Linked DNA regions of Homo sapiens. The protein of the gene in region 3 purifies or fractionates together with the protein of the main gene of each other region. This does not show direct contact. Each region holds a gene or a part of one and is shown on either strand. Other genes may lie near its edges.

Region 1 (7,027 bases), on a different chromosome or scaffold from region 3:
CAGCCTGACCAACATGAAGAAATCCCGTCTCTACTAAAAATATAAAAATTAGCTGGGCGTGGTGGCGCATGCCTGTAATCCCAGCTACTTGGGAGGCTAAGGCAGAAGAGTCACTTGAACCTGGGAGGCGGAGGTTGCGGTGAGCCTTGATTGTGCCATTGCACTCCGGCTTGGGCAACAAGAGCGAAACTCCGTCTCAAAAAACAAAACAAAACAAACAAAACAAACCAAGAGTTTGTCCTTAGTCTCTTTTCCTGGGGAATACAGGGACATCTAAAGGTTTAAACCTATACCTCTCCTTTGAGAGTTAGAGCCAGCCCAAGCAACTGACCTGAACCACACCTCCCACCCTGTAATGCAAATCAAGCAGCTTAGGGAGTTTACCACAGGGCTTGAAATGAAATGTAAATTCAACAAATGTTTGCCTTCTCTCTGCAGAGGAGTGTTATCTTTTCTCCTAATAATTTCTGGTTTCTCAATGACTGGGTCTAACACTGACTATGGTTCACCCTGTTGCATATTTCTTTAGAGGTCCTTCACTAGGGGGTTCGGAAAGTTTAACAAACTTCTCCCGCCAGGCTGAGGAAGGAAAATTGCTTGAACCTGGGAGGCAGAGGTTGCAGTAAGCCAAGATCGCACCATTGCACTCCAGCATGGGCAACAAGAGTGAAACTCCGTCTCAAAAAAAAGCAAACTCCTTCTTACGAAAGGCTGAAGGGCAATCTCCAAAAACCACCAACTCCCATTTCCAACAGCAATACTACTACTACTACCACCACAGGATGAGTATCCTTAATCCAAGATGCTCCAAAATTTGGAACTTTTTGAGCACTCACATGATGCTCAAAGGAAATGCTCACTGGAGCATTCTGGATTTCAGATTTTTGGATTAGGGATGTTTAACCAGTAATTATAACACAAATATTCCAAAATTAAAAACAAAAACAAAAAACCTGCAACACTTCTAGTGCCAAGCATTCCCGGTAAGGAATACTTAACCTGTATTATAAAAACAGAGCTGCTGTCTTAGCTCCCCAGTGACAGTGACTTCCTCTTTCCCCAAGGTCAGCTTCACTTCTGGATACTTTTTTTGAGGTGGGGTCTCACTGCATCACCTAGGGGGAATGAAGCGACGCAATCTTGGCTCACTGCAACCATGGTCTCCCAGGTTCCAGTGATTTTCCTGCCTCAATCTCCTGAGTGTCCGCGACTACAGGTGTGCACCACCACAGCTAATTTTTGTATTTTTAATAGAGATGGGTTTTCCCCATGTTGGTCAGACCTCCTGACCTCTTGTGATCAGGTTGAACTCCTGACCTCAAGTGATCCACCCACCTTGGCCTCCCAAAGTGCTGGGATTACAGGCGTGAGCTACCACGCCCCGGCTTTGATTCTTTAGTTATGCCACATACTCCAGCTTCTCCTGCTGATTCCTGCTGGCTTCTCCATCAAAAATCAGTTTGTTTCCTCCTTTTCCCTCTCAGCACTTTAAGCGTGGGCCTGCCTCTTTCTATTCTCTCTTCATTTCCTCCCTAAGGCTACCTCAGACCACTAGGAACATCTGGCTCCTGAAAGGTTTAGCCAGGGTAATCGCCTAGCTTCCAAATCCTAAGATTCTGAGCCATAACCTGTAATGCGGTTTCGCATTACTGTACATCAGACAGCTACGGCAGCAGAAACAGATCAACAAACACTCATGTTTTACCCAACAACATATACCTCAGCCTTTCCATCACATTTACAAAGTTAAAAAAAAAAAAAAAAGAAATGGTAGTATAAAGTACTTATGTACCTGGAAAACAGGCAGTGGTTTTTAAATTGTCCCATGAAAATCAACATTTGAATACAACTTTTCATTTTAATAAAATTAGTTAAGTATTTTATATATATATTAAATGTCTGCAAGCCTTCAACCAAAAGCCACCTATGTCAAGGGCACTTTCATGCCCACAAGTAGACTGGATGGCAAATTATATCTGCCTGATGAGAGAGAGGAAGCTTGAGCATAAGATCTACAAATTGTGTTGATGACCAAACAGGAGTCGAAACTGATACCAACCAACACTGATCTTCTAAGTCATTTTTTAAAGGCCTCTGCATTAAGTAGAAACCGAAACTGATGCAGCCAGTATCATTACATTAGGATACACGTCACAAAAATGAGGTCAACTGGATTTGAATTCATCAGTGCAAACATGAAAAGTATTTGCTGGGCTAACAGCTATGTAAAAGGAATCCTTTAACTCAAGAGCAGGCCAGGCACGGTGGCTCACGCCTGTAATCCCAGCACTTTGGGAAGCAGAGGCGGGCGGATCATGAGGTCAGGAGATCGAGACCATCCTGGCTAACACAGTGAAACCCCGCCTCTACTAAAAATACAAAAAATTAGCCGGGCGTAGTGGCGGGCGCCTGTAGTCCCAGCTACTCGGGAGGCTGAGGCAGGAGAATGGCGTGAACCCAGGAGGCGGAGCTTGCAGTGAGGCGAGATCGCGCCCTGCACTCCAGCCTGGGCGACAGAGCGAGACTCCGTCTCAAAAAAAAAAAAAAAAACAAAAAACAAAAAACTCAAGAGTAACACTTGGAATAAGTATCCAAAACACAGTGTTGGCTGGGTGTGGTGGCTCATGACTGTAATCCCAGCACTTAGGGAGGCTGAGGTGAAAGGATTGCTTAAACCCAGAAATTACAGGTGGTAGTAAGCTATGATCCCACCTCTGCACTCCAGCCTAAGGCTCTGTCTCAAAAACAAACAAAAAAAACCCATCACACCTGCCTTGCATTTCACTACCTAAGGAGTAGTAACTGGCTTACTGGTACTTCTCTGACACAGAATCACTGTTAATATTGAATACCTTTCATGTACAAGTTCAATGCTATCAGTCAGTCCAGAACCCATAGAATTTTTGTCCCTGATGATTCCTGCCACCCCATCTTATCAGCTGGATCTCAAGGTCACAGACCAAGCAAACATCCAGTTGTGGGAAAGGGTGGTAGTAGAAGGGCTCAGTTTGTGAATATAATCTTTCTAGGATGCACTTCTAACAAATGTGCTAGCTCAACATATCTATGTGAATTGAGATGGAAAAACACTGCATCTGGAGACTCTAGGTTACGATGTGGTCTAGGGGAGGGCCACAGGGACAACCCTTTGCTGATATCCCTATAATCATATTAGCAAATGCCAAGTACCTGAAGTTCCTTAACCACCTCTTCACTCCAAACCTGAAACCCGTCCTGGCAGCAATGATGAGCACAAAAGGAAGGTGAAGGTAAAGATTCAAAACCTTTTCTGACTTGAAACCCTTTACTGAACTGATATTTTCAAAGCTTTTTTTTTTTTTTTTTTTTGAGACGGAGTCTCACTCTGCCACCCAGGCTGGACTACTGTGGTGTGATTTTGGCTCACTGCAACCTCCGACTCCTGGGTTCAAGTGATTCTCCTGCCTGAGCCTCCTGAGTAGCTGGGACTACAGGCATCTGCCACCACGCCTGGCTAATTTTTGTATTTTTAGTAGAGATGAGGTTTCCTCATGTTGGCCAGGACGGTCTTGATCTCTTGACCTTGTGATCCACCCGCTGTGGCCTCCCAAAGTGCTGGGATTACAGGCGTGAGCCACTGTGCCCAGCCTATTTTCAAAGCTTTAAGAACTGTGTTTTGTCAATAGTCAAATCGAAGTATACCTTTAATTAAACAATCCAAAATGGGTCACAAAATGTGTAAAATACTGTAAAAATAATCTTTGTTCAGCACATTTTAGTTTTAGGAAAGTTATTGCCATTCTTCCTGGGTGTGGATATGCCAGAAGGAGAAAAACTATAATAATTTCAAAAACTAATTATTTACGTATTGCAAGATTCCATTTGCATGCAATATTCTCTAGAAAAGACAAAAAGTAGATTAGTGGTTGCCTGGGGACTATGGTGATGGTCGCATAACTCTATAAATTTACTACAAATCGCTGAATTGTACACTTTTAACAGAATAATTTTATGGAATGAAATTACATAATAAAGTTGCTTAAAAAAACTATTTGGAATGGTTCTCAGATTTCTACTAAGAATTAAGTTATCTGTGAATACAACAATTTAAATCTTAAAGCAACCATTACCATGATCATTACTTCCTAATCTGATCATCACATCATAAAAGAATCCAAGACCTTATTTTATTACAGCGGCAGTGTTATTTTTCTACCCAAGAGAGAAAAAACTGGCTGGGCATCATGGCTCACGCCAGTAATCCCAGTACTTTGAGTGGCCTAGGCGGGCAGATTCCTTGAGCCAGGAGTTTCAGATCAGCTTGGGCAACAAGGTGAAACCCCATCTCTTCAAAAAAATACACAAATTAGCCAAGCGTGGTGATGCATGTCTGCAGTCCTAGCTACCTGGGAGGCTGAGGCAGGAGGATTGCTTGAGCCTGGGAGGCAGAGGTTGCAATGAGGTAAGATGGTGCTACTGCACTCCAGCCTGGGCAACAGAGTGAGACTCCGTTCCCCCACCCCCCTAAAAAAGCTAAGCTAAAAACAAGTTGATGAAATAGAAAACATGAGAGATGATACCACTGCATCTAAACTCTCACAATTCCTAACAGAAGTATGTGATAATTGTTTATGATAAATATCTTAATTTCAATAACTCTTCCTTAGATATAGAAAAGTACTTACATTCATCATAAAATCCATAAATTCTGTTGATGCTGGCACATTCATGGTTCCCTCTGAGAAGAAAAAAATTCTCAGGATATTTTATTTTGTAGGCCAGTAAGAGGCAGATCGTCTCCAATGACTGCTTTCCCCTGTCCACATAGTCCCCAAGAAACAGGTAGTTGCTTTCTGGTGGGAAACCACCGTACTCAAAAAGTCGCAGCAAATCATAGTATTGTCCATGGATGTCACCTGGAAGCAAGAATTTTGTTACACAGTGTTCCCATACTTAAAGCTCAATCCACTAACAAAGCTTTGGAAAGACATTCTTTAAATATTCATTGTACAATGGCATTGACCTCTAGTAATGAGAGTTTAACTGGGCAGCCAACACTAAGTAATTTCCAATCTTATATCATATTTAGTTCAACTGAGCTTAACAAAAATTTTAAGTATATGTGTATGTCCAGAACCTCACATAAAATTCAACTATTAAGAATTTATTCTGTGGAAAGGGTTATTATGTCCAAGCATGCATTCTTGCCAAGTAACATGGTATCCCTTTCAGGCTGACTGATCAATATCAGATCTCTGACAGCTCAGTCTCTGGGTACTGTGTCAGCAGAACTGCTGCACTTCTAGTGAGTCTTGGCCCCATCTGAACAAAAGCACATACACACATACACACCACCCCCACCCCCCACCCATCAATGCATTTAGCTTTCAATTTCTCCCTGCTAGATAATGCCAAAGAACATTTTACTTTTAAAAACATGAACACAAAGTTTTATCAATGCAAATATGCTATAAGAATATATTACTCAAACGAATAAAGTTTGGTTTTACATTGAGTTAAAACACAGATTATTTGCTTCTATTATGCAGAAAACAGAACCACAAAATCAGTATCAAGGAAGTTCTATTTTTAGCTATAACCAGTGTTGCTTTAAACTTAAACATATTCCTATACATCCATGTAGTTCAGACCTTTCCTCAGCTCTCCATTCTTAGTTTCATTTTTTTCTTTTGCAATGTTTATTCCTTCAGCAAAATATTTTTTTTAAAAATCTGAAGTACATCTAAGTAAACTAAGTCCATTAGAGGTATTTATTCTAAAGCTACTATTTAACTTACTTTTAAGTAGTTCCAAGCTATTCGCAAACAGGATAATCATTCTGCTAGCTAATACAAGGTCATCAACATATCCTTGACTCAGTTAATCAATCATGTAACAAAAGATAACCTGTGTGCCCCAAACTTACCACATATTTTGAGTGGTGCTTCAAGTTCTAGTAGGATAGGCTGACTGAGAAAGATTTCACGAGACTTTAAGCACAGTCCTCTGATTTCATTCTCCTGAAGCTGGACATTCTTACCAGGCTTGGACCCTCTCACTGCAAGAGAAAAATCGCAATTAGTCCAATGAAGCCAAAATACAAAATACAATACGAGATTTAGATAAAGGGGCAAAAACATGGTTTAACTAGCTTTCTGAGTGGCTTCATTTTCAGGACACTTATAATAAACATGGTTTTAATGTCTAATTAGAATCTTAAAATCTTAGACAAGACTTAATTGCATCTTCGATACCAAGTAAGACTTCTTTTATAGTATTCCAAAAAAGGAGCCATCCTGTCTGTGCGAATGCTGTTAGAAACAGGACTGCAGGCCAGATGCAATGGCTCACGCTTGTAATCCCAGCACTTTGGGAGGGTGAGGCGGGCAGATCATGATGAGGTCAAGAGATCCAGACCATCCTCGCCAACATGGCGTGCACCTGTAATCCCAGCTACTCAGGAGAATCGCCTGCACCCGGGAGGCGGAGGTTGCAGTGAGCCAAGATCGCGCCACTGCACTCCAGCCTGGCAACACAGCGAGACTCCGTCTCAAAAAAAAAAAAGAAAAGGAAAGAAAAGAAAAGAAAAGAAACAGGATTGGAAATACTCAGAACCCTCCCCCATCAGTGTTTTCCAGAGGACCATGGGTATCTCCTCCTGAGGATCTCTGATTTAATTTACCTATGAAAAAATGTTAGTGTTGTTTTCATTTCATTAAGAAAATGTTGGTTCATTGTACTTATTTTGCCATGCATTTTCTGGGCCTGCATTTGTGTTTATGCTCATGTCTATATAGGGCAAAGGATGTCAGTCATGTGCTATACTGTAAGAAAGCACGTTCCCTAATAATTTGAACAGATAAGATAATAATGGGAGAAAGAAATCATTGCACAGCATGGGGCATCCACACCACCAGAGCACTTAGGGTTCTTCTATCAAAGTACAAACTTTGCAACAGAACTCACTTGTCAGCACGTAGGTAGTTGTGGGAAAGAAATTTTGTTTTGGTTCCAGTTGTAACAGACTGGATAGTCATTAGATACAGAT
Region 2 (6,638 bases), on a different chromosome or scaffold from region 3:
ATGGTCATCCTAGTCTCTTGTTCCAGTTCTCAAGGGGAATGCTTCCAGCATTTCCCTTTTCAGTACGATGTTGGCTGTGGGTTTGTCAGATGGCTCTTACTATTTTGAGGTATGTTCCTAATTTTTCAGTGCCTAATTTGTTGAGGGTTTTTAACATGAAAGGGTGTTGAATTGTATTGAAAGCCTTTCTGCATCTATTGAGATGATCATATGGTGTTTGTTTTTAATTTTATGAGGTGAATCACATTTATTGATTTGCATATGTTGAAACCTTGCACCCCAGGAATAAACCCTTCTTGATTGTGGTGAGTTAACTTTTTGATGTGTTGCTGGATTCGGTTTTAGTATTTTGTTGACGATTTTGCATCTGTGTTCATCAGGGATATTGGCCTGAGGTTTTCTTTTTTCCTTGTGCCTCTGCTAGGTTTTGGTATTACAATGATGCTCACTTCGTAGACTGAGTTAGGGGGGAGGTCCTCTTCCTGGATTGTTTGGAATAGTTTCAGTAGGATTGGTACTAGCTCTTTGTACATCTGATATAATTCAGCTGTGAATCTTTCTGGGCCAGGGCTTTTTTTGGTTTATAGGTTTTTTTATTACTGATTCAGTTTTGGAACTTGTTATTGTTCTGTTCAGGATTTTAATTTCCTCCTGGTTCAGTCTTCGGAGTTTGTGTGTGTTTCTATGAATTTATTCATTTCTTAGGAGGTCATGTGTGTTTCTATGAATTCATTTCTTGGGAGCGCATGTGTGTTTTTGTGAATGTATTCATTTATTCTAGGTTTCCTAGTTTGTGTGCACAGGTGTTTATAATCTCTAGGTATTTTGTATGTCTGTGGGGTTGGTTGTAATGTCACCTTTCTCATTTCAGATTGTGCTTATTTGGATCTTTTCTTAATCTAGCTAGCAGTCTATCTTGTTTATTCTTTTGAAGAACCAACTTTTGGTTTCAACATTTACATTTTTAAAAGAGGCCAGTTTTAGCTTTAGTGTGCTCCTACAAATCATTCTTGTTCACTGAGTAAAACAGCTTCAGTACTTTGCTTTTGCAAAGGCTATTCTATGTCTTTGATGTACACACACTGTATTTCTCTTAAAATGCATTGGGGCTTTCCCATTCCTCTTTCTCTTTATCATAATATACTGTTTCCATCAATTAGTACAATTGAATGGTAAATGGTTGATTGCTCATTTACAAATTAAATATAGTAACCATACCTTATCCTTCCAGCAGTTGTCATAGTGGTGTTGGATTAATATATTCTCTTCACTAAGGCACTATTATGTTCTAAATAGTTTTTAAAAAATACTTTGTACATATTTCTATACTGTTTTAGTTTTGGAAAATCATGACTTTTTTATGTATAATGTAGGTTAAAGCTCTATTTACATCCACCAGAATGAGTGTAGTAAAAAAGCCAGACTGTATCAAGTTTTGGCAAGGATTTGGAGGCATTAGAATCTTCATACATTAATGGTGGGAATAGAGTTCTCATATGATGCAGCAGTTTTACCTCTAGGTATATACCCAAGATATATGAAAACATGTTCACACAAAAACTGTTACATAAATGTGCATTATTCCTTATAGCCGAAAAAGTCACACAATTCAGATGTCCATCAGCTACTGAATAGATAAACTGTGGTACATCCATACAATGGACTGTACAATGTACAACTCAGCAATAAAAAGGAATGAAGGACTGATACTTCAAAACTGGTTTTGAAAACCTGAGTGAAAGAAGCCAGTCACAAAAGACCACATATTATATGATGCCAGTTATATGAAATGTTCAGAATAGGCAATTCTATAGAGACACATAGTAGATTAGTAGTTGGTTAGAGTTAGAGGATGTGGAGAGCAGGAATGGGGAGTGACTGCTGATGGGAACAAGCTTTCTTTTTGGGGTGACAAATGTTCTAAAATTAGATTTATATCAATAAAGCTGTTTTTTAAGTAAAAAGATCTATTTATACATAAATAAATAAGGTCTGAAGGGTTTGTGACTTGTAGGTTAGTTACCCTCCTAAGTTACTGTATCAGAATTATGATGACAACATAGATCTTCTGACTCTTAAACCAGTGTTCTTTTCCTCACAACAGAGATACACTAAGTTCAAAAAGTTTTTTACTTAAATCTAAGGATTGGATAGTTGATAGAGTTAGTGTACTTTTGTTATTAAAATATGAGTGGAATGACAAAGTTCAGACATTTGCACACTTTAAGAAATGTTTATGGAACTTTGCTATTCTACATTTTTATTGCATTTTTGCAGTTTATGCCATTTATTGAAAATCACAATTGTAACAATTTTCTTAACTTCTGTACATGAAAAAATAACATTATTTGTTAATAATTTACTTTAAGATATTGAAACCATCTGAAAAGAAAGCTAAATACCAGTATGGTGGACTGAATTCTGGACGTCCTGTCACTCCACCTCGAACAGCTAATCCGCCGAAGAAAAGGTGAAGAAAGGAATTCTGTAAAGAAACCATCAGATTTGTTAAGGACATACTTCATAATATATAAGTGTGCACTGTAAAACCATCCAGCCATTTGACACCCTTTATGATGTCACACCTTTAACTTAAGGAGACGGGTAAAGGATCTTAAATTTTTTTCTAATAGAAAGATGTGCTACACTGTATTGTAATAAGTATACTCTGTTATAGTCAACAAAGTTAAATCCAAATTCAAAATTATCCATTAAAGTTACATCTTCATGTATCACAATTTTTAAAGTTGAAAAGCATCCCAGTTAAACTAGATGTGATAGTTAAACCAGATGAAAGCATGATGATCCATCTGTGTAATGTGGTTTTAGTGTTGCTTGGTTGTTTAATTATTTTGAGCTTGTTTTGTTTTTGTTTGTTTTCACTAGAATAATGGCAAATACTTCTAATTTTTTTCCCTAAACATTTTTAAAAGTGAAATATGGGAAGAGCTTTACAGACATTCACCAACTATTATTTTCCCTTGTTTATCTACTTAGATATCTGTTTAATCTTACTAAGAAAACTTTCGCCTCATTACATTAAAAAGGAATTTTAGAGATTGATTGTTTTAAAAAAAAATACGCACATTGTCCAATCCAGTGATTTTAATCATACAGTTTGACTGGGCAAACTTTACAGCTGATAGTGAATATTTTGCTTTATACAGGAATTGACACTGATTTGGATTTGTGCACTCTAATTTTTAACTTATTGATGCTCTATTGTGCAGTAGCATTTCATTTAAGATAAGGCTCATATAGTATTACCCAACTAGTTGGTAATGTGATTATGTGGTACCTTGGCTTTAGGTTTTCATTCGCACGGAACACCTTTTGGCATGCTTAACTTCCTGGTAACACCTTCACCTGCATTGGTTTTCTTTTTCTTTTTTCTTTCTTTTTTTTTTTTTTTTTTTTTTTGAGTTGTTGTTTGTTTTTAGATCCACAGTACATGAGAATCCTTTTTTGACAAGCCTTGGAAAGCTGACACTGTCTCTTTTTCCTCCCTCTATACGAAGGATGTATTTAAATGAATGCTGGTCAGTGGGACATTTTGTCAACTATGGGTATTGGGTGCTTAACTGTCTAATATTGCCATGTGAATGTTGTATACGATTGTAAGGCTTATGTCACTAAAGATTTTTATTCTGATTTTTTCATAATCAAAGGTCATATGATACTGTATAGACAAGCTTTGTAGTGAAGTATAGTAGCAATAATTTCTGTACCTGATCAAGTTTATTGCAGCCTTTCTTTTCCTATTTCTTTTTTTTAAGGGTTAGTATTAACAAATGGCAATGAGTAGAAAAGTTAACATGAAGATTTTAGAAGGAGAGAACTTACAGGACACAGATTTGTGATTCTTTGACTGTGACACTATTGGATGTGATTCTAAAAGCTTTTATTGAGCATTGTCAAATTTGTAAGCTTCATAGGGATGGACATCATATCTATAATGCCCTTCTATATGTGCTACCATAGATGTGACATTTTTGACCTTAATATCGTCTTTGAAAATGTTAAATTGAGAAACCTGTTAACTTACATTTTATGAATTGGCACATTGTATTACTTACTGCAAGAGATATTTCATTTTCAGCACAGTGCAAAAGTTCTTTAAAATGCATATGTCTTTTTTTCTAATTCCGTTTTGTTTTAAAGCACATTTTAAATGTAGTTTTCTCATTTAGTAAAAGTTGTCTAATTGATATGAAGCCTGACTGATTTTTTTTTTCCTTACAGTGAGACATTTAAGCACACATTTTATTCACATAGATACTATGTCCTTGACATATTGAAATGATTCTTTTCTGAAAGTATTCATGATCTGCATATGATGTATTAGGTTAGGTCACAAAGGTTTTATCTGAGGTGATTTAAATAACTTCCTGATTGGAGTGTGTAAGCTGAGCGATTTCTAATAAAATTTTAGTTGTACACTTTTAGTAGTCATAGTGAAGCAGGTCTAGAAAATAAGCCTTTGGCAGGGAAAAAGGGCAATGTTGATTAATCTCAGTATTAAACCACATTAATCTGTATCCCATTGTCTGGCTTTTGTAAATTCATCCAGGTCAAGACTAAGTATGTTGGTTAATAGGAATCCTTTTTTTTTTTTTTAAAGACTAAATGTGAAAAAATAATCACTACTTAAGCTAATTAATATTGGTCATTAAATTTAAAGGATGGAAATTTATCATGTTTAAAAATTATTCAAGCACTCTTAAAACCACTTAAACAGCCTCCAGTCATAAAAATGTGTTCTTTACAAATATTTGCTTGGCAACACGACTTGAAATAAATAAAACTTTGTTTCTTAGGAGAAAATGATTCTGTAATTCCAGTGTCACTAATTTATATTGTTCTTTCCTCTGATTTTTTTCAGGTTAGTGATTTTTTTGTATACAATTTAATCCAAATGTTATGACATTCAGAAATCATGAAACACAGTAGATATCTGTTATAATGTGGTGTATCACATGGATTATAAAGCAAAGTTATGGTCGATTTCTATTCTTGAAAGAATCAACTACAGTGAATCCTTTGCATTTGAAGCCTTAACATGCATTGCTTTAATTTTGCCCAGGGACAAATTTTAATAATCAGCAAGACTGGTTTGTGCAAAGCGTTGAGTCATCAGGTATTTAGAGCCTAGCCAGCTACCCAGTATCCATGCTGCCATATCCCTTCATTGTAAAAAGTACCTAAACATTCGTGAAATGATTTTTTTTAGCTGAAAAATGCTGGCAAGAAGAATTTTAAAGCTTAAAATAGGTGGTAAATTTGAAGTATGAGTGTGTTCACGAGAAACATAGGCTTTTCAAAAAAATTTTTATTCAAGGCAAAGCAAGGAACATCTTGAGATATGTCTCAAGAATATAAAGATGTATTATTTTAAGCCAAGGAGCTGAAATATATCTCAGTTTATAAATTCAGGTATATTCTTTTTGTCTCCATGGCAACCATAACTTTTGAACCAAAAAAAATTGTTTTTACATCTTTATGCTGAAAATGTGTTTAGATTAGGAATATGGTCGGGCTGAATTTGCTGTTGCTCCCTAACCAAATCCACCTCTTGTTTTCCTTGTGAGTCCATGGCTAAATCAAAGCTGCCCCTGAGAAGAGACTTAATCCAAGCCTGATTGTACTAGTGGCATCACTTAGAAGTAGGCTTTCCCTCTTCCTAGTAGATCTCAATGTTTTATAATTCCTTAAAACAGCTGAAAATTGGGACAACATACTTTACGCAATGAACAGTAGTTAAATAGGAAATAAACTAGTTCCATATAAGTATACACCTAGAGTTTTAATTACCTTTATAATGTTTCTTAAAAGTGAAACTTAGATACAATTGTGATTGGATACTTAGATACTAAGTGAAACTTAGTGTAACAATTTTGATCTGTTAAATTGGATTTTACATGTACATTTGAATGCCAGAATTTCTAAATAAATCCCCTGGTTAGGAAATTTTAAAAGTCAAAGCTTGTTTTCTTCAACCACTACCTTCTACATTGGTTGACTTAGACCGTAAGCTTTTTAAGTTTCTCATTGTAATTTACCTTCTCATGCAGATTGCTGATGTTTTATTAAACCTTATTTTTACAAAAATGACCATAAATCTTTGCTTCTTTCCTCTTAGGGATCTTTGCTAGTTTATGTGATTATGAAATCTTACTTACAACACCACATTGTTTGGGGTATACAGGGTGGAAGATAGCAAGTGAACAGGGGGTGCGGGTGGGGAGGGTTTGTGTGTGTGTGTGTGTGTGTGTGTGTGTGTAAGAGAGAACAAACTAACGGCCTGAGGCTAATAGGTTCAGCATTCCTTTCAGATACTATATGCAAAAAGGTGGGAACCTAAGGTCTGTTCCTGGAGGCTTTTCAGTGAAGCCTGGCATAGGATCGGCAAGTTAAAATATGTATTAATTTTTACAGCTGCCTAATCAGAATGATTCAGCAGATTTACAGGCCAAATTTTTCCTACAAAACCAGTGACATCACAGCTAAACATCTAGAACTTTCATAGATTATTGTACAAATTTATTAAAAGGCACAGTAATTTATGGTCTATCATGTAAACACTGATTCTCGACAAAACCACAAAGGCAAGTAATACAGTGCAACAGAAAAAAGTAGTC
Region 3 (7,080 bases):
TTTGGGAGGCTGAGGCGGGTAGATCACGAGATCAGGAGTTCAAGACCAGCCTGACCAACATGGTGAAACCCTGCCTCTACTAAAGATACAAAAATTAGCCAGGCATGGTGGCATGCACCTGTAATCCCAGCTACTCAGGAGGCTGAGGCAGGAGAATCGCTTGAACCCAGGAGCCGGAGGTTGCAGTGAGCCAAGATCACGCCACTGCACTCCAGCCTGGGCGACTGAGCGAGACTCCATCTCAAAAAAGAAAGAAAATCCATGTTGAAGTGTTTAGGGATAAAGGGGCTTGATACCTCCAACTCTAAAGGTGGGGGGAGGCACACAGTACATATAAATATTTACCTACAGTCATGAAGCAAATGCAGAAAATGTAACCAGTTATTGAATCATATGGGAGTTCTTTGAAACACTGTAACTTTGTTAGTTTCTAATTATGTAAAAATGCTACGAGTAAATAAACTGCCTTATGTCACAAAACTAGCATTTTACTTTTAACAAGACAGGATTTGGCCAGGCACAGCAGCTCATGCCTATAATCCTAGCACTTTGGAAGGCCAAGGCGGGTGGATCACTTGAGGTCAGGAGTTCAAGACCAGTCTGGTCAACATGGTGAAACCCCATCTCTACTAAAAATACAAAAGTTAGGGTATGGTGGCAGGCGCCTGTAATCCCAGCTATTTGTGAGGGTGAGGCAGGAGAATCGCTTGAACCCGGGAGGCAGAGGTTGCAGTGAGCCAAGATCGCGCCACTACACTCCAGCCTGGGCGACGGAGAGAGACTCCGTCCCCCACCCGAAAAAAAAAAACAAAAAAAAGAAAGACAGGACTTCATGTCAAGGTCATCCTTCCCAAATCAAAATTACGCCAAATTTGGGGACAAACTGCAAAGAAATGCTATAACAACCTTCATTTCCTTTAAATGAGGATATACATCTCCACCCTCAGGTTCTGGGAAGAGGTTCTAATCTGTGCATAAGCACTATACATTTCATGCAAGCCAGCTTCAAATTACTCCTCCAGGACCCCACAATGCTGACCCTACTACCACACCTTTAAATGTTACTTCGTCTTCTAAACTGATTCAAGTGACCAGACCAGGACAGAAATCCATCTACTCAATGAGTAACACTGACTCAAATAACTATTTGTCCAGCTAACAATTCCCTCTTCCTTAAGACCACCACTGCAGACCACTCTGCCACAAACTGCAGGCAGATCCAGAGCCGGTTACATAATACTTTCTCACAGCCCCAGTGGGGAAAAAAACTGGGGGGATACCATTATAGCTCAGTCCAAACTAGCATTACTTCAGATAATCAAATTCACAAATGAAGAGATATGTTCCAAAAGAAGGACACCAGTCTAAAAAAAAAAAAAGGAAAAAGGAACAGCTGGAGAAGGTGGAGAAAAACCCAAGATCTCAAATAATAATAATAATAATAATAATAATAATAATAATATCTGTTACTAGGTGACAAAATCAAGTCTGAAAAAACCAGGGTCCACCGAATTAAACCAAACATCAGCAAGCCTTCTTGGGGAAGGTGGCTAAGGGTAAAACGAATTTAATCTAAACTAGTTTTTGGCTCCAAGGAGCTGCAAGTCCACAGGCGTGCGGTGAGGAGGGCTGACAAGGACCCCCAGGGAAAAAGGCAAAGTGCTGTGCTTAGATTTTGCGAAAAGATGCAGGTATGGTGGGTCTCCAGATGACTTGTGGCAACATAAAAGTTTCATGATCAGAATTGGAATTCAAAGTGGACCAAAAAGTGTAATAGAAAAAAAAAAGTATGAAAGGAAACCTGAAATTGTTCTACGATGCTTGCTTTGTTTTAACGGAAGCTCACATTCAGGTCAGGATGGGACGACCAAGTTCGTTTGTGTGTGGCAAAAAGGAAGTTTTAGATGTTGCTGAAAAGTTCACTTATGAACGTGGGCACCAAGTCTGAATGAGTAAGAGAAAGGCTAGGAGCAGGAAGAAAAAGCAAGGGGGCTCAAAGGGGCACAACAAATAAATCCTGACAGCTAAGAAGTGCAACCCACGCGGTCTGACGGCAGAAAGGCCGCGGGAAGCTGAGGGGCAGGGGATGGGCGGAGTGCCAGGGCGGAATCGAGGTCACAGTGGAGAGAGCACAAGAGAGAGCTGACGCTGCCGAAGGAGGCAGAAAAGCAGCCCCTGCAGTCCTGCGTCGAGGCCGGAGCAGACCAGCACCTTTGACAGCCTGAGGAGCTGAAAACGCTACCTGGTGGGCCCAGGGTGGGCGGACCGGGCGTTTAAAGGTCAAGGTCAAGGTGGGGTTTGGCAAGTGATGCATAGCGCTCAAAGGAGACCGAAGACATACAAATAATATTATAAAATTATGACTATCGTTATCTTTTTTTTTTAAGAAGAAAAAAATAAAAGGTCTCCTGGACGGCTGCGGGGTGGAGGCGGCCCTGGCAGGAACGCGTGCAAAATAGGCTGGGGGCTGAAGTCGGGACGGAGGGCAGGCCGAGGGACCTGTGCTGGGCCACCGGAGGGAGGCACTGAGACTCGGGCCCAGGGCCTCCGCCGCACTCACTTGCCCTCCTGGCAGTCATAGAGCACGATGGAGTCGTCGTCGCTACTCGAGATGACCGTCTCGCCGTTGGGGCTGAAATCGAAGCAGTTAATCTTGTCCGAGTTTTCGCGGAACACCTTAGCGACGCGGAAGCTCCGCAACACGCTGTCGGTCAGCTTCATGGCGGCGGCTGGGGAAGGCAGCGGCGGCGCAGGGCCGGGGCGGGGCCCGGCGGCGAGCGGGCGGGCTGCCGAGGGGCCAACCCAGGCGGGGCGGGCGCCGCGCCGGCGGCTAGCGGGAAGTCGGCCAACAGTTGGGCCGCCTCCTCCTCTTCTTCCTGCTTGGTCGAGGGTCTTCTGCCTGGACTGTGGAGCCTCGCCGACCGTTCGTCCTCACAGCCACCTCACGGACAACCGGCGCGTCGCCGGCTCATTGTGTCCGCCATTTTGGGGCGACAGGCAGAAGCTGAGGGCGAGGAGCCTCAGCCGCGGCGCACGCCGGGAAAGGGGGCGGGGCGGGAACGGCGGAGCAAGGCGGGGAGGCGGGGTGGTGACGTCAGCGCGGCCGCGGCGGAGTGTAGTGGCGGGGCGGGCTGCTGGCAGGGAGCGGCCGAGACGTGCAGGGCCTTCCCGGGGGATCGGAAGGTTGCGGATGCCTTGGGAGCCGGGGGCCCTTGCGCGGGATTGCAACCCCCGCGAAGACTCTGGCGCCTCCTGCAGGCGTCCCGATCGCAGGCTGCGTGGGAGGGGGTACTGCAGGGTCGGGTATGCTGCTGGAGGCCGGTTTTGGGGGTGACTCAGGTGAGCCGCTCGCAGGCAAGCTTGACCGCTAGTCCACCGCAGCGTCCGCTTAGACAGCTTCGACCTCTTTACTTTTTTTTTTTTTTTTGGAGATGGAGTCTCTCGCTCAGGCGCGCGCCACCACGCCCAGCTAATTTTGTATTTTTGGTAGAGACGGGGGTTCACCATGTTGGCCAGGCTGGTCTCGAACTCCTGACCTCACCCGCACCCGGCCTCGTTTTCTTAATCGAGGTAGACTTTAGGTACAGTAAAAATCAGCCTTTTTAGGCCGGGCGCGGTGGCTCACGCCTTTAAACCCACCACTTTGGGAGGCCGAGGCGGGATGATCGCTTGAGCTCAGGAGTTGAGACCAGCCTGGCCAACATGACAAAACCCCACCTCTACTAAAATACAAAAAATTAGCCGGGCATGATGGCGCGGCTGAGGCACGAGAATTGAGAAAGGCGGAGGCTGCAGTGCGCCGAAATCGTGCCACTGCATTCCAGGCTGGGCGACAGAGCAGACGGTTTCCCCCCAAAAATTAGCCTTTTTAGTGGCTAGTTTTATGTTCTGACACCCATACACAGTCATGCAGTCACCACCACATTCAAGATTTGGAAGAGTTGCACTATCCTGTTTGTAGTCAACAGGATTATTTTAAAGGTTCTATCATATAAGTGATTATTTGCCTTAAAAGAAAGTTTATCTCTAACAAAGGAAAGCAGTATTTGAACAGAAAATAGGAACCAAGCTTCCTAACCTTAACTTTCTGGGCAAGGGGTTAAACTCAATGCCAACCTATGTGGCTTCACAGATCTGTATCTTGTGTGAAGCTCCTCAAAAGGTTAATTGCCTGGGGTTTCCAACAATGAAGATGGGGATTATTTATTTTTGCTTTCTTTAGCTAAAGAGAAACAAAAACGAGGAAAGGCTGTGAGACATTTCAGTCGCTATTAGGAAGGTTATTATCCAGAGACCTGTGCAATGGTAAAAAACAAAATGGAAACCCTGGGACAGTTGGGGTCTTTCTAGAAAGAACTAGAGGCTGTATCCCAACCCCCTGGGTAAAAGGAGAGCCAGGATCCTTATACATAAAGAGAAGTTGTTCTCTAAGGGAAGAGGCAAGTTCCTGGCTAAGTCTGGGGTATAATTGCCTCCTGACAAAGAGCAGAGCTTCTGGCTACAATTTGTTCTGGGGTCTGGAAAAAGCCGGTTTGAGTGAAACCTGAATAGATGGCAACTTTCCAAACTGCACACAATGGAAGAAAAACCCTCCACGTCCCAGATCACTTGCTCTGCTTCCCTGTAATTCCTGTGCCTTTATTTCAGAAGCTAGAAAGTCTGATACAGCGTCTGCTTCGAATAGTTTAGAAGGCAACAAGGACAGATCGAGTACCATGTTCTAGAACTGTCGGGAAGTGAACACACCCAGTAAGATGATGCCATATTTTGGTCCATGTTAATCTACAAAAATAACCACAGAAACAGCTGTAATCTACTGAATGTTGCCAGCCAAAATAAATCTTTGCAGGGTATTTTTCAAGTATTGTACTTCCTATACCTTTTCCAGATTTCACCGTTAAGACCAAACCTTCCTCCCAAGACTTGACTTTCTGCATTATTTTTGGAATGCAGTCTTTTTTTTTTTCCCCCATTTTTAAGAGGGTCTTCAAATCCTCATCCTGTTTCGCATTCTTACTGTTTCCAATTCCTAGCCTGGCTCCCTGCCCTATTATAGTGGGGCTCTCCTGGCTTCCAGCCCAACAGTATGGTTGCCTTAAAGGATGGACTTTAGGCCAGGTGCGGTGGCACTTTGGGAGGCCGAGGTGGGTAGATCACAAGGTCGGGAGTTCAAAACCAGCCTGGCCAAAATGGTGAAACCCTGTCTCTATTAAAAATACAAAAATTAGCTGGGCACAGTGGCGGGCACCTGTAATCCCAGCTACTTGGGAGGCTGAGGCAGGAGAATCGCTTGAATCCGGGAGGCAGAGGTTGTAGTGAGCCGAGATCACACCACTGCACTGGGCATTAGAGCAAGACTCCGTCTCAAAAAAAAAAAAAAAATGGACTTTAAAAAGTGACACAGAAAGCCGGCTCCAGTGGATGGGTGGATGGAGAGAAAGCTGCAGTCAAGAGTGAATCAGATGGGCTTTAAAAGAGCATCAGACTTAATTTTTTATGTTTCCTTTTATTTGTAGTCATTCTTTTACTTGTCACATATTCATTGCAAAAAAACTAAAAAATACAAATAATAAAAACAGCATCCAGAGATAGCCACTGTTACAATCTTTTATTATAGTGAAATATATATAACACGAAATTTACCATTTTGATGTAGAACCTTTCCGATTTTTTCATATACATATATATATATATATATATTTTTTTTTTTTTTTTTTTTTTTTTTTTCCTGCTCTGTCACCCAGACTGGAGTGCAGTGGCGTGCTCTCAGCTCACTGTAACCTCCATGTCCTGGGTTCAAGTGATTCTCCTGCCTCAGCCTCCTATAGATGCCCGCCACCACGCCCAGCTAATTTTGTATTTTTAGTACAGACGAGGTTTTATCATGTTGGCCTGGCTGGTCTTGAACTGCTGACCTCAGGTGATCTGCCTGCCTCACCATCCCAAAGTGCTGGGATTACAGGCATGAGCCACCACACCCAGCCAATCCCTGAAATATATTTTTATTGGGTTCATAATATATTGTTTGTAAGTTTACCCATACTATGAACATATTCCAGGTCAATAAATATCGATACAATCATTTTGAATGGCTACAAACTATTCTATTATATGGCTGTAAAGTAATTTTGCTTCCCATTTTGTCCAGAGCCCAGCCAGAGCTCAGTATGGATTAATTGAATAAATGAATTTATCCAAAGGATTCCAGATACTTGATTGGCCCACTTATTAAATTTTTCTATTTCATGCTGCACAATTGGAATGGAAACTGTCCTAAACAATGTGTCCTCTTTCCAAAACACAGAGCTCCTTATGAATTCTAATTCTTTGAGATAAATTTCTGAGCTCCAGTGCCCAGCAGCAGGGCTTCCCTAGAGATTGACTAACGTCTTACTCAACCCTTGGAATAACTAGAATCAGGTGACTCTCTTCTTTGGGACAGTTGCATGTGTGTAAGTGTGACAGTGTGTGTGTGTATCAGTGCTTACACAGCCCTCGGAATAACTAGAATCAGGTGACTCTCTTCTTTGGGACAGTTGAGTGTGTGTGTGTGTGAGCTTAATTGCCAAAGAGGAAACGCAGAACACTAGAACACAAAATGCCTGGTGAGGTGTCTGAGCCCCAGCACCAGGAAGTGGTCGCCTCACAGGTTGGCAAAAAATTTACTGACAACAGTATAGGTTTGAAAAAGGAAAATTTCTTAGAAAGAAAGAACGCTGCAGAAGAGTGCAGCGGGGCACCCCAGCGAGAGGACTGAGGGCCTTGGTGGATTTTCCTTAGGTGCATTTATGGACCTTCAGGCAGGAGCTTAGGGTTGTAAAATTAGTTTCAGCATGACATTCCAGAGATGCCTAGAAATTTTAGTTACTTATAAAAGTTGAAAGAGGCCTGGAACCAGATGCCCACTTTAGATACTAGGGAAGTTTAATTACTTCTAATTTCCCCAGATAAGGAGTTTTGCCTCTGGATGGCCTGTTGGATGGTTACCAGGTGGTCTTTGCTCCCTTCTAAATTCCTCAGATAAGGGCCAGGCACAGTGGCTCATGCCTGTAATCCCAGCACTCTGGGAGGCCAAGGTGG

What was found. The genes of interacting proteins can lie anywhere in the genome.
Region 1: the proteins of WDR82 (region 3) and PPP1CC purify together in Homo sapiens (affinity purification with mass spectrometry; 5 studies listed by BioGRID and IntAct, with this or other methods). This does not show direct contact.
Region 2: the proteins of WDR82 (region 3) and PPP1CB purify together in Homo sapiens (affinity purification with mass spectrometry; 5 studies listed by BioGRID and IntAct, with this or other methods). This does not show direct contact.

What each region holds. Positions count from the first base shown.
Region 1 is NC_000012.12:110,725,865-110,732,891, forward strand, and holds part of PPP1CC (serine/threonine-protein phosphatase PP1-gamma catalytic subunit), read right to left. Parts: intron 6,038-7,027; coding exon 5,906-6,037; intron 4,896-5,905; coding exon 4,665-4,895; intron 1-4,664. UniProt on the Homo sapiens protein: Protein phosphatase that associates with over 200 regulatory proteins to form highly specific holoenzymes which dephosphorylate hundreds of biological targets.
Region 2 is NC_000002.12:28,796,830-28,803,467, forward strand, and holds the end of PPP1CB (serine/threonine-protein phosphatase PP1-beta catalytic subunit), read left to right. Parts: intron 1-2,369; coding exon 2,370-2,474; 3' UTR 2,475-6,111; downstream 6,112-6,638. UniProt on the Homo sapiens protein: Protein phosphatase that associates with over 200 regulatory proteins to form highly specific holoenzymes which dephosphorylate hundreds of biological targets.
Region 3 is NC_000003.12:52,275,641-52,282,720, forward strand, and holds the start of WDR82 (WD repeat-containing protein 82), read right to left. Parts: upstream 3,010-7,080; 5' UTR 2,722-3,009; coding exon 2,561-2,721; intron 1-2,560. UniProt on the Homo sapiens protein: Regulatory component of the SET1/COMPASS complex implicated in the tethering of this complex to transcriptional start sites of active genes.